Regions from separate parts of the Homo sapiens genome. Here regions 2 and 3 are each linked to region 1. The links come from fine-mapping of genetic effects on gene expression. A gene starts in region 1. Each other region holds a variant in brackets. All regions are shown on one strand. Distances are between the middles of the regions.

Region 1 (4,239 bases):
TATTTATTGGCTCCCACTAGTCCCTTCTAAAGAGAGAAATCAATGGCAGCCTCCAAATGTGAATGGTTACTGAGGAAGTTCATCCACAGATTAAGAACAAATATTATGTGTAGTCATACAAACAAGAAAAAAATGTTGGGAGGGTGGGACATTTAACGTCTCTATTAAGTATATCAAACTATGATAACCCCTGAGACCTAAAATATTCTCTCATTCCAAATTCCAAAAATTCTGCAAATGTGCATAATGGTTTAGTAATCAAATCTTGTCCTTCTCTTTATTCTAAAGGATGGGCAAGTAAACACTGTCATCACTACTTTAACGTGGAAACACTCGAGCACTTGATGAAACTGACTACCAACAGCAAGAAAAGTACAAGAAAGCAGTTTGAAATCGAATCATCCAAATAAATATCATATTATCTCAATTCAAGGTTAATGAGACCGGGGGAGGGGGTATGGGAGGAGTAAAAAGGGAGCTGCTTCATCCTTGACTGAAGATAGGTTTTGCCCTTTTCCATTGCCTGTTTATCAGGAGGTCTAATAATTTCAGATCCTGGTATTTCGAGGTTTCTTATTTTAAGGGCGAGGTGGAAAAGGGGTGTAAAATAAAACCAATACTCACTGCTAACTTTCATGCTGCCAAAAGCTGAAGGCTGCTGCACCGGCTTGCAGCTCTCCGCAAAGGAGGTGGTTCTGGGCCGCCCTGACATGATCACTCTCTTCGCGAATCACCTTTTCCTTCCTTCCTCCTTTTCTTCCTTTTGTCTTTATGTTGGGGTGTTAGGTTAACGATAAATGCAGCATTAAGTTCTCCCACAGAAGAAAAAGAAAAAGACTTCGTCCTCTTGGCTTTTCACTCCTTTTGTATACTATAAAAAACAAAACAAGCGATATATTTCTCCTTCAAGACAGATCGGCACGGATATTTAACATATAGATGATTTAGGACTTGGGAAAAAATACAATTCTTTCCCCTCCCTTTCCTGGGAGGAGAGAAAAGAGAGGGCAAATCCTAAAAAAATATGTATCACGTGAAACGGGGGCAAATACTTGATTGAAAATGAGTACTTCGAATATTATATTTTCCTCGGGGATTTTTTTTCCGAGTCAATGAAGAAGGGAAGCGGCGGAAGGATCACGAGTCTCACGCTTGAAGAGAAAGGGGGATGGGTAGGAGGGAGGGAGAGGGAGGGAGGGGGTGGCTCGGAGATGCGACGGGAAACGCTGCAGCTCCGGCAAGCCGCGGGATCCGGCGGGCTGACGGCAGGGGCCCGGCGAACTAGAGGGCGGCGGAGTCGCGAGTCAGTCAGAGGCGGGCGGTGGCGGTGGCGGCGGCTCCTCTCCTCATTGCGCCAGGAGCAGCTGCAGGCGGCGGCTGGATCCAGCGGCCATGGCGGTGGCGGAGGCAGCTCCCTTCAGACCCCAGGCAGCGGCTCCTCGACTGTTCCCCATTCGCCGGGGACATGGGAACCCGGCAACCGCTTCCGTCCCTCGGGGCCCCCTCCCCCGTCCGCGGCAACAGCTCGGCCGCCCTCCCGCCCCTCGGCTCTGCTCGGTGCCCGCTCAGGAAGTGTCCGCGCTTTGCCCCAGCCCAGAGCCCTGTCAGCGGCTGCGGGGCCGGCTCCTCCTCGCTTCCTTCCTTCCTTTGTCACTTGGCCCGGGCGGCGGCGGCGGCGGCGGCGGCACAAGCCCGCATTCGCCCGGGTCAGGAGCTGCTCTGTGTGAGGAGCGCTGTCTGCGCAGCCGCCTTGCACTTCCCCACTCCTCCTCCCCCCTCCTACTCGTCCTCCACCTCCTTCCTCCCCCACCCAGCCTTACACCGCCCAGCGCCCCGCCGCCCGCGTAACAGGCGTCTGGGAATCGCCGGCCGAGCCCCACGCTCGCCCGCTTCGGCTGGGAGCCGAAGCCCGAACGGAGCCAATCACGGACGTCGTTTGTTTGCGGCTCCTCCCGGAAAAAGCCGATCAGCCTGAGAAACCAATTAGAAAGTGACGCTGGGAAGCCACGCCCAAAGAGCGGAAAATGCCGAAGGTAGCCGAACGGAAAGGGTGAATTCGCCTTGTTCGGTGGCTGGCTGGAGGAGACATTCGACAATGGCAACAGTGGCCAATCAGAGTCGCCGGCCCTTACGAAGAGGCTTGAAGAGTTGAGGACGGTGAAACCCAGAGACGCTGGTGAAACTGCACGGCTGGGCGCCGCCGCCGCTTTGTGATTGGCTGGAAAACTCCGCTGGGAGCGTACCTCCTTCGGTGATTGGTGAAGAGAAGGGGGCTTCCGAGGACAGTCTGGCCAGTCAGGACTTCCCCTCCCTCTCCAAGGTGGGGAGAAGAAAGCGAAGGGAGGGCGTCTATAAAGCGCTGTCTCATTGGCCTGAAGCTTAGGCGCTGGAGTTGGGGCAAAAGGGAGAGGGAGGGAGCCCGAAACTCGCGGCGGCGGCCAATCGGCTCTCACTGCCGTCCAATCGCAAGACCTAGCTGCAGTGTGATTGGCCTTCGGCCCCGGTCCCAGGAGCGGGGAGATGCCTGACTCGGGTCGTGGCTGACGACCCGACGGTTCGCCTGCGGCCGCCTCCAACAACGGTGGAAACCGCACACAGGGACCGCGGGCCCTCGGTGCAGCAAATCGGAAAGTGCTGCGGTCGGCGGCCCTGGGCTCTGAGCGCTCAAGCGAGCAGAGGGGTGGAGGGGCTCTCCCCACCCACAGGAGGCTCTCGGCGGGGCGCAGCCAATTCTGCGCGCCCAAGGCTCCCCTCTGCCGTGGATCGCGTGTGCCGAGTGTTGGCCTCTTCCCCGAAAGGGCCAGACGGACCAAGGGGGCCTTCCCAGCCGGCTGCAAGCTCTCAGACGCTAAAATGGGAACAAAGCTTCCAGAAAGGCAGCGCCTTTGGGCGGCCGCGCCCCGCCCAGCCGCGGGGGCCATTGATACAGAGGCTTGCTGCGCTTGGTGTGCGCGGCCCGGCCGGGCCTCTGGAAACGCCCATGAGAAATGAGCTCATGCTGGATGCGCGCGCTCCTTGGGCGCAACTGCCCAGCGCAAAACGGGCCCCGAAAGCAGGTGAGGGGAAATGCCGTCAGGCCGGATATCCTGAAGCCTCCGAGGAAATGGGGGGGTCAGAGGAGCCCGTGGTAGCTTTGGATCTTTTGGAACTAGGGTGATCTATAAAAGTGCAGCTTGAGAAGATTTCATACATAAGACCAGCGTCCATTGTTCTACCATAGAACCAGTTCCTTTGGTCTGCTTTAGAACAGTGAGGTATGGCTACGTCAAGATAACAGAGAAAGTAGAACAGACAGTTGCCATCCTGATTGTAATCCAGTGGTGCCTGTAATTTCTACCTGCAGAGTCATCTCTTTCTGTTAAGATGCTGTCTCCAGAAAGCACATGTTAAAGGACCTATATTTGATCAGATTACCTGGCTCTTGCTTTGAAACACTGATGAAGGACTTGGGACAGAACAAAGTAAGCTTTGATGGAAGACAGGAAAGGTCTAGATAGTGTTTGCAGATTCAAATGGCTACAGAGGCCAGACAAGTAAAGCAAATGAGTGAGACTGGCCTTGTGTAAGACAATGGGGAATGATAGGGAAAATGGCAAATTGGAATATCCATGCCATAACTAAAAGGAACAGCTGCTCAACTCTAGCAGATTGTTGCCCTCAGGAATGTGGGTCCAGTGTTCTCAGATGTTCAATTTTTTTCCTCCCAAAAGAAACCCCAAAATTGGATTTTTGTGTGAAATCTCTGCATTTTTAAATGTTGGTAACCAAATTTTCAAACCCTGCAGGCCAACCTAAAAACATCCCTTGGCCAATGAGGCATTGGAAAAAGTGTTAATAATTGTTAGGGGCCCGATAGCAGTAGGAGGGTGAAAACAAAATGGTTTGGGACCTTAAATAATTGAAATGTATCTTTATTTATTTATTTATTTTTGAGACGGAGTTTCACTCTTGTTGCCCAGGCTGGAGTGCAGTGGCGCGATCTCGGCTCACCGCAACCTCCGCCTCCCCGATTCAAGTGATTCTCCTGCCTCAGCCTCCCAAGTAGTTGGGATCACAGGCATGTGCCACCATGCCAGCTACTTTTGTATTTTTAGTAGAGACGGGGTTTCTTCATGTTGGTCAGGCTGGTCTCGAACTCCCGACCTCAGGTGATCTGCCTGCCTCAGCCTCACAGAGTGTCAGGATTACAGGCGTAAGCCACCACACCGGGCCGGTTGAAATTTATCTTTAAAATAGTGC
Region 2 (4,239 bases), 64 kb after region 1:
ACGAGGTCAGGAGATCGAGACCATCCTGGCTAACATGGTGAAACCCCGTCTCTACTAAAAATACAAAAAATTAGCCAGGTGTGGTGGCGGGTGCCTGTAGTCCCAGCTACTTGGGAGGCTGAGGCAGGAGAATGGCATGAACCCGGGAGGTGGAGCTTGCAGTGAGCTGAGATTGCACCACTGCACTCCAGCCTGGGCGACAGAGCGAGACTCCATCTCAAAAAAAAAAAAAAGACAGGGAAGAGATGGACATCTACAAGCCAAGAAGAGAGATCTGGAACAAATACTTCCCTCAATCCTTAGAAGGAAGCAACACTGCTGACAGTTTGATATCAGAATTCTAGCCTCCTGAACTGTAAGACAGCAAATTTCTGTTGTTTAAACCACCCAGTCTGTGGTATTTTGTTATGACAGCCCTCACAAACTAATTTAAACATTTAGTGGCTCCCTCTAGCTCTATACATCTGGTGGGAAAAATCCTGGGTGGGCATAACTTAAATATTTGTGTTGTTTGCATTTACCAGAAATTTGGTAAGTTCATACATTCATTTATTTATTCATCCATTGCCCATCTCCTTATGCTGATTTATTAATTTTTAAATTACACATACCACTCTCTGGAAACTATTTTATCTTCTACTTACTTGTTCATTGTTTCACCACAAGCTTCATGAGAGATGCTGAATAAGAATTTATCCTTCCTTGTTTCCTTCCCTCTCTTCCTCCCGTCAATATTTAAGCACCTCTTATGTCTATTGTGTGCACAGCATTCCATGCTTGTCACTGTTAAAGCATAAAGAGGTACAAGGAATGTTTCTTGTCCCCAAGGAGTCTGTGATTTCTGGGAGGAGACAAAGCATGACCATGTGAGTGGCTGTATTCCACCACCAGGTAGTGGGTGAGTATGTGCTGGCCAGGTGCTGGATCATAACTGTTGCCAAGAGGGAAGGTGCAGGGGACTGAGGGTGTGCAGGAAAAGGCTCCCGGAGAGGAGGGGCCCGCACTTCAGATAAAAGAGGGGAACAGGAAGGAGTATAGTGGAGCAGAATGTTAGTAATCCATTGCCTTCCTTGATGCCTGGGGGCTATGTTTAGGGAGGAGTGGGGTTGCCTCAGGCCAGGGTTGATCAAGGCTTGGGGATAGGGTGATGCACAGAACCCAGAATCTTCATTCTGGCATCCCAGGAGGTCAGAAACAAAGCTCAGAGGCAAAAACTCTGGCCACACATTAAAATCATCTTGGGAACTTAAAAAAGGCTAATGTTAAAACCCTACCTTGACCGGGTACATCCCGGGATCTGCAGGCAGGACCTGAGAGAGAAGAAATCCTTTTAGGATGTGGATTGACAGCAGTGGCTCCTGACCGCAAGGCCCAGGCCACCCTGGCCCAGTCATGGGACACCCGCAGTTCTGGAGTGATGAGGGTAACTGCTGGAAATAAGGCACCAGGCTGCATTCCATTGGTATGGCCTCCTTGTCCTGAGCGTAAAAGTGCCTACTTGTGACATCAGAAGAATGTGTTGACAGATCTGTATCCCACTTCCAATTTTTACTATATTTTATGGTGGGAGCAGCAGCAACAGCAGCAGGATTAATTAAGCTGGTTTCCCTCTTTTTTTGGTCCCCATCAGCTTTCTGCAGCTGTTCATGGATAGAAACCATCCAGAAAGGTGTTTTGTTATTTTTGTTTTTTGAGGATATTGGAGACATTGGGTCCAGGGTTTTAGGGATTGTTATGGTTTGAATGTGACCGCCCCAAAATTCAGGTGATAGTATTAAGAGGTGATTTAGGTCACCTAAATTTAGGTGATTTAGGCCTTTAAGAGGTGATTAGGTCATGAGGGCTTCTCCCAGCTGAATGGGACTAAGACCCTTACAAAAGAGGCTTCATATAGCATTTGTCTGATTGACGCTTCTGCCTTCCACCATGTGAAGACTCGATGTTCCTCCTCTCTGGAGGACGCAGCCCTCACCAGGCAACTGAACCAGCCAGCGCCTTGATCTTGGAGTTCCCAGCCTCTGGAACTGTGAGAAATACATTTCTGTTCTTTGTAAATTTCCCAGTCTGTGGTATTGTGTTATAGCAGCAGAAAATGGGCTGAGACAGGAACCTTCCTCCTCAGGTCTTGGTGGCTCAATTTCTTCTAGCTGTATATGTAAGCTCCTATCACAGTGCCTGGCACATAGTGGGCCCTCAGCAAATGTTTGTTTCCTTCATTTCCAATGAGACAGCAGAGATTCTCAGAAATGTTAAATTTCAAATATGTTCTGACAGAAAATTGCTACCAAATTACTTTTTGTCTGTTCAGGACACTCTTGGTAAAAACAGAAAGATGGGAGCATAGAGAGTTGGCCCATCTTCAAAATAAACCTAGAAATGTTGGTTGACACCTAGGTGTCAGGCACTGCAGAGGCTAGCATGAAAATGCAGTGATAGATTATACAGGGCACTTGCCCTCCAGTATCTGATAATCTATTTGAACAGGTAAGATGTGAGCATGTGAAACCTTAACAATAAAGGATTTATAGAACAGCCCAAGACAACAGTAGAATTGCTGTC[G/A]GGGGCATATCAGGAGTATGCAATTTATTGCCTAATAAATCTGAGGACAGCTGGAACTGGTCAGAAAGAGGAAAAGCTACTTCAGGTTGGGGTAGTTAGAATGAAGGAGAAAGCAGCTGGTGTGAACAAAAGTGTTGAGCCTGATCTGGGCCTAGGTATGCCCCAGATACAGACAGCAAACCCAGCTGGCAGGAACAAGGAGAGTTTTAGGTAAGTTTAGTGGGAGGGTGAGCTGTGCCTCACTGGGGTCCCCCTTAAGACAGTTCTGGTGAGACCAGTCTTCCTCCCTTGATTAATTCTTCTTTGACAAGCATTTGCTGGGCACTGATCATGTGCCAGGCACAGTGCTAGGTGTGGGGGATTCCAAGATAATTATAACAAGTTCTAGGCTCAAAGAGCTCACAGTCTAGTGGGGAAAATGAGATTTCAAGCCCCAAACCAAGGTGAGATTTCATCCTGCAGGAAGTAGGGAGGAATGAAGATTTTTCTAGCAAAGTGGGTTTGAATTGAAAAGGGATTGTGGGCCGGGCTCAGTGGCTCACGCCTGTATTCCCAGCACTTTGGGAGGCCAAGGCGGGTGGATCACCTGAGTTAAGGAGTTCAAGACCAGTCTGGCCAACATGGCGAAACCCCATCTCTACTAAAAATACAAAAATTAGCCGGGCGTGGTGGTGGGCACCTGTAATCCCAGCTACTCAGGAGGCTGAGGCAGGAGAATCACTTGAACCTAAGAGGCGGAGGTTGCAGTGAGCCAAGATTGCACCACTGCACTCCAGCCTAGGTGACAGAGTGAGACTCCATCTCCAAAATAAAAAATAAAAAAGAAAAAGAAAAAGAAAAAAAAGAGATATTGTGGCTCTTCCCTCAGCTCAGTAGAAGATCTGAGAGTAGCACTGTTTCCATTTGCCACAGGGTCTTCTGGGTCTCTTGCGCAGAATCATCTTTTTGTGCCACTTACAAAGCACAATCCTTGAGAAAAGTTTTTCAGTTTGCAGGACTGACCGTGATCTTTTTAAACAGGGAGACTGCTTGCTGTCAGTATCACCTGTATTTTGCATTGAGCTTTCTGAAACTGAGGAGGACCAGGTAGCTCTAGGGAGCTCCCTTCCAGCCTCCAGGATGCTGATGCAATGACTGAGCAATGGAGAGTTTTGCAATATGCTTACAGAACCAGACCAGCTTGCTTTTCCTAAGGAAACCTTGGTGTCCTAAGAAAACCTCAGGCTGGGTCCCTGCCCTGCCGGGTTGAAATTCCTTCTGTCTTCTGGTAGCATGCCTGTAGCACATGCTCTGTAACCAGCTTTAGGGAGTCCACAAAAGGCTTTGGAATGAAGTCAAATTTCAGTGCAAACTCAGTCTCTGCCTCTAACCAGTTGTGTGATTTTTGGCAAGTGACCTAACCTCTCCCAGTTAAAGTTTCCTCATCTGTGAAACAGAGTCAATAACTACTTTGCTAGGTGGTTATAAATATTAAATAAGATGAGTATTAAGTGGTGCATAGCAGATTATCTTACATATATTTTCTTCTATTACAAAGTGCATAATATTTTTCTGTTTTTGTTTTTTTGAGACAGAGTCTTGCTCTGTCACCTAGGCTGGAGTGCAGTGGTGCGATCTCAGCTCTCTGCGAACTCCACCTCCTGGGTTCAAGTGATTCTTCTGCCTCAGCCTCCTGAGTAG
Region 3 (4,239 bases), 55 kb before region 1:
TTTAAAAGTAATAGCTTATCCAATTATCCAAATTGCTTAACTTCTTAAGCAATTAAGAAACATGAGCTTCTCCATCCAGAAATGGTGACAGACTGAAAAACTGAAGACACATTATCCCGAAGAACTTGTATTCTTATTGGAGAGATAACTCAAAATCTAAAATAAGAAACAATCCTAAATATATTAAGCAAGCCGGTAGTGTGTAATACGTCATATGCAAAGGAAGGAAATATGTTTTATAAAGTGAACTCCAGACTGGGTGACAGGGAGAGACCCTATTTCAAAAAAAGAAGTAAATAAAAAATAAAAATAAAGCACTACAGCTCTTTTTTTTTTTACCATCTTACACATCAAACCTTTAGTCTTGAGGTATTTAATGGTATTTAGTGGTTTCAGAAAATACTGAGCATATAAGCATGCATTTAGAACTCCATTTTTTACATTTTATGCTCTTTATGATGGTTATTCTAGGTCAGTCATTAAACTCCCTTATGTAAATCTGCTTCTGCCAGATGACATCAATAACTACACAAACAGTCCATAGGTTAACACTATTATATTTTCCTGTAATACACTATAGAGAATAAAATAAGAGGAACTGATGAATAAAAAATATATAAAACATCTAAAGAAGTCTTTATTACTAATAATCTTCCATAGCTATAACATATGCAAGATACTGTACTAAACAATTTATATTAAATATTGTTCATTTAACCTAAAAATACATTTACATACAAGGAAACTGAGGCACAGTTCAGTAACTTGTCCAATGTCACAGCAAGTAAATAGCAAATTCGGAATTTATCCCAGAGCCCAGGCGCTTACTCAACATGTTACTTCCTCCTAAGCTATTTTTAAAGGCATAATATGAAGTCAAATTATTAATTACAACAATCTCAGGTTTCTTCTTCAATTTTAGTTATCATAATTCACCCTCAAAACTGTGCCACTGAGGCCAGGCATGGTGGTTCATGCCTGTAATCCCAGTGCTTTGGGAGGCCAAGGTGGGTGTGCTCCTTGAACCCAAGCGTTCAAGACCAACCTGGGCAACATGGTGAAACCCTGGTCCACACCTATGATACCAACTACGCGGGAGGCTGAGATGGCAGCACTGATTGAGCCTGGGAGGTTGAGGCTACAGTCAGCTGTGATCAAGCCACTGCACTCCAGCCAAGGCAAGAGTGAGACTCTGTCTCAAAAAAACATGTGCATCATTGAAAGAGGACATCAAAAAGGGATGGCAGTCTTTTTCTGAAAAATGGTACTAGAATAAGCGACCATCTACATGCAAATAAACACACATCAACTTACACAAAAATTAACTCAAAATGCACAAAAATTCACAAAAATTAAAAAATTAGCTCAAACTGCATCATAGACCTAAAGTAAAATGCAAAGCTATAAAACTTCTAAAAGATAACAGGAAAAATCCAAGTAACCTTTGGTTTGACGAGGACTTTTTACATACAACACCAAAAGCACAGTCCATAAAAAAAAAAAAAATGGAAAAGTGGGCTTCGTTAAAATTAAAAACTTCTGCTCTTTGAAAGAAAGACACTATGAAACAGGATGAAAAGACAAGACATAGACTGGGAGAAAATATTTGCAATACACATATCTGATAAAGGGCTAGTATCCAAAATATACAAAGAACTCTTAAAACTCAATAATAAAACAAATGAATTAAAAAGTGTACAAAAAATCTGAACTGATACCTCACAAAAGAAGATATACAGGTAGCAAATAAGCATATGAAAAGATGCTCAACATCATATGTCATTAGGGAATTGTAAATTAAAACAATGCCATACCATTATACATCCACTGGAACAGAATGGCTAAAATCCCAAACACTGACAACACCAAAAGCTG[A/G]TGAAAATGTGAGGCAACAGGAACTCTCACTCACTGTTTGCAGAAATGTAAAATAGTACAGCCATTCTGGAAGACACATCAGCAGTTTCCTGCAAAGCTAAATGTAGTCTTACCACACAATCCCAGCAATCACACTCATAGATATTTACACAAGTGAGTTGAAAACTTATGTCTGTAAGATACAATGAATTTTTCTGAATTTCTCTTCAAAGGTTCAGGTTGTTAACTTCCTCGTTTTTTGTTCTCAAACTCAACTTTCTTGTTTTCCATGCCTCCTTGCCTCTAGTTACTGTAAAAAAAAAACCAATCTTCCTGTCAGCTCTTATCAATAGCTTACAACTGTTCCCTTGGTTAAACACTCTGCACCCATTCCACCCATTAGAAACCACACATCACCCTTCGAAACCACACATCCCATCACTGTAACTCACCTTCCCCTTTTCTTATTTGGAAAAAATATTCACAAGTAGCCAATCGGGTCTGCTTAGATTGTGTAGTCCGAACCCAGCCCATGCGGGAGTGACACAGAGGTAGGGACTATGCATTAGAGATAAAAACCCCTTCTCTCCTGTGCTCCCTGTGCTTTTGCCATTGCTCCATCTGCAAGATACACCCTTCTGCAGAAGTAAATTGCCTTGCTGAGAAAACTTTTGGCACTGAGCATTTATCTCCAACAAATCTGCGGGCTCATCCGGGATTCCCATTCTCCTCTGGGAAAGGGTCTTGGTCCTCTCCCGTGAAGAGGTGCGCCCCACTGCCTCGTTGCAGCAGCCTCAGGGATAAAGGAATTGAGGCCCACCCAGTGTGACAAATAAACCCAGACTCTCAGCAACATGGGAAAGAAACAGGCCGGCAGCTCGGGGAAAGGAGGCTCACATACCACAGCGACTAGGTAACTCTGTGCACAGACCAAAGTCAGAAGGTCGCAGGGGCGACAAAGTATTTCCTTGGTGGTTGGGATTCTGGAGGTTAAAAGTGTGTAAATGATCACAAGCACTACTGCTTGCAGTGCTGCTTGTGTGAATGGTACTAAGCACTACTGCTGTGCAGAGTGAGTGGGTCCTATCGGCAGTTCCGTGGTCACCTCATACAGCTTAGGGCGGCCCTTTGGGGATCCTGTCAGGAGTTTATACTGACCCGCCATCAATGCTAAGAGGGACCTGAAATATTCCCGCGAGGGAAGTGGCCAGAGCAGATGCAGCGAAAAAAGGGTGCAAGAAACCTCCAGTAGGTGGGGCTAAAGGATAGGCAAGAAATCTCTAACACAAGGTATTGAGCCTTAACAAGCTCCCCAAGGAAGAATAGGCAAGAAATCACTGATACAAAGGATTGAGCCTTAACAAGCCCCCAGAGAAGAATAGGCAAGAAGTCTTTAGTACAAGGGATTCAGCCTAACTAGGACCCAACATGGGAAATACGCCAAGCAAGACAAGAAGTAAAAAGGATAAAAACAGCAACAAAGATAGTCCCCCCAATCTCTTGTTAAAAGACCTAGCCCCCTAGGTCTCATGTTAAAATATTGGAAAGATAATAAAAGGTTAGAAAAGCCAGTTCCCATGCCTAAAGACCATCACATGGGATCCCCTACACTGTCTTCCCCTGCTCAGTGACCCCAACCCTTTCCTCTCAGGCAGCTGTTGCCATCCTAGATCCTGCTTCATATCCTTCCCCTACTCATGTTACTCCTCCTCCTTACAATTCTCACTCTTGGGAATCAACACCCTATGAACCTATTCCCTCCCAGCCTAAGTATCCCTCCTTAAAGGGACTCCATGCACCTAAGTCGCCAGGCAGCTTTTGTAGGGTGGGCAGCATCAAGGATCTGCCACACTGTGTCACTGGCATCGTCCGGGCCCTGGTGTGCCTCCACAGTAGGCAGAGCCCACGCTCCTGCCCCCTTGCTGGTCCAGGGTTCAGGCACCATGTAAAGGGTGGCTCTGCAAAACATGCAGACCAGGCCACGGGCCAAACCCCGAACAGGCTACATTATGGGACATCTGCCTTACTTCTGCTGGGGCCAAGTGGTGCAGGGATTTGGCTGCGGCTCCAAGCAGCTGGGCATCCCTGCAGCTAATTTTCCTGAGTAAGTGGTAGATAACCTTCCAGCTGATATATCCACCGGCATTTATTGTAGTTGGGCCAGTGCTGGAAGTAGAGATGTCCATAAGATGGTGGTGAGCACAGGATGGAACCCATACTACAAGAATACAAAGAAGCCCATGGAAACACATATCATGCATACCTTCAAAAAAGACTTCTATAAGGAAATCCTCAATGTGATCATTGTTGGCTACCCCAGACCAGAAAAGAACTTTGATTCTTTAGAGTCACTTATATTAAAATATACCACTGGAAAAGTATTAC

What was found. PIP is the estimated chance that this variant, and not a neighbour inherited with it, causes the effect. A credible set is the group of variants that fine-mapping cannot tell apart.
Region 2: its variant is the best candidate, but not a certain one, in a credible set for the expression of GSK3B in whole blood (INTERVAL, PIP 0.72).
Region 3: its variant is the best candidate, but not a certain one, in a credible set for the expression of GSK3B in whole blood (INTERVAL, PIP 0.60).

What each region holds. Positions count from the first base shown.
Region 1 is chr3:120,092,723-120,096,961 of GRCh38, forward strand. It overlaps GSK3B (glycogen synthase kinase 3 beta), which reads right to left and starts at 1,725. Exons shown (of 11, transcript NM_001146156.2): 1 at 625-1,725. The coding sequence starts at 712. It overlaps GSK3B-DT (GSK3B divergent transcript), which reads left to right and starts at 2,382. Exons shown (of 3, transcript NR_186629.1): 1 at 2,382-3,056. RefSeq lists enhancers at 1,904-2,313, 1,940-2,234, 2,514-2,833.
Region 2 is chr3:120,156,465-120,160,703 of GRCh38, forward strand. The region is part of intron 1 of LOC105374065 (a long non-coding RNA gene); the gene reads left to right. Among named protein-coding and RNA genes, the nearest start is that of GSK3B-DT, 63 kb to the left of the region's middle. The variant G/A (reference allele first, on the strand shown) is at 2,560.
Region 3 is chr3:120,037,327-120,041,565 of GRCh38, forward strand. All of the region lies in intron 1 of GSK3B (glycogen synthase kinase 3 beta), which reads right to left. It also overlaps the pseudogene RFKP3. Among named protein-coding and RNA genes, the nearest start is that of MIR6529, 45 kb to the right of the region's middle. The variant A/G (reference allele first, on the strand shown) is at 1,876.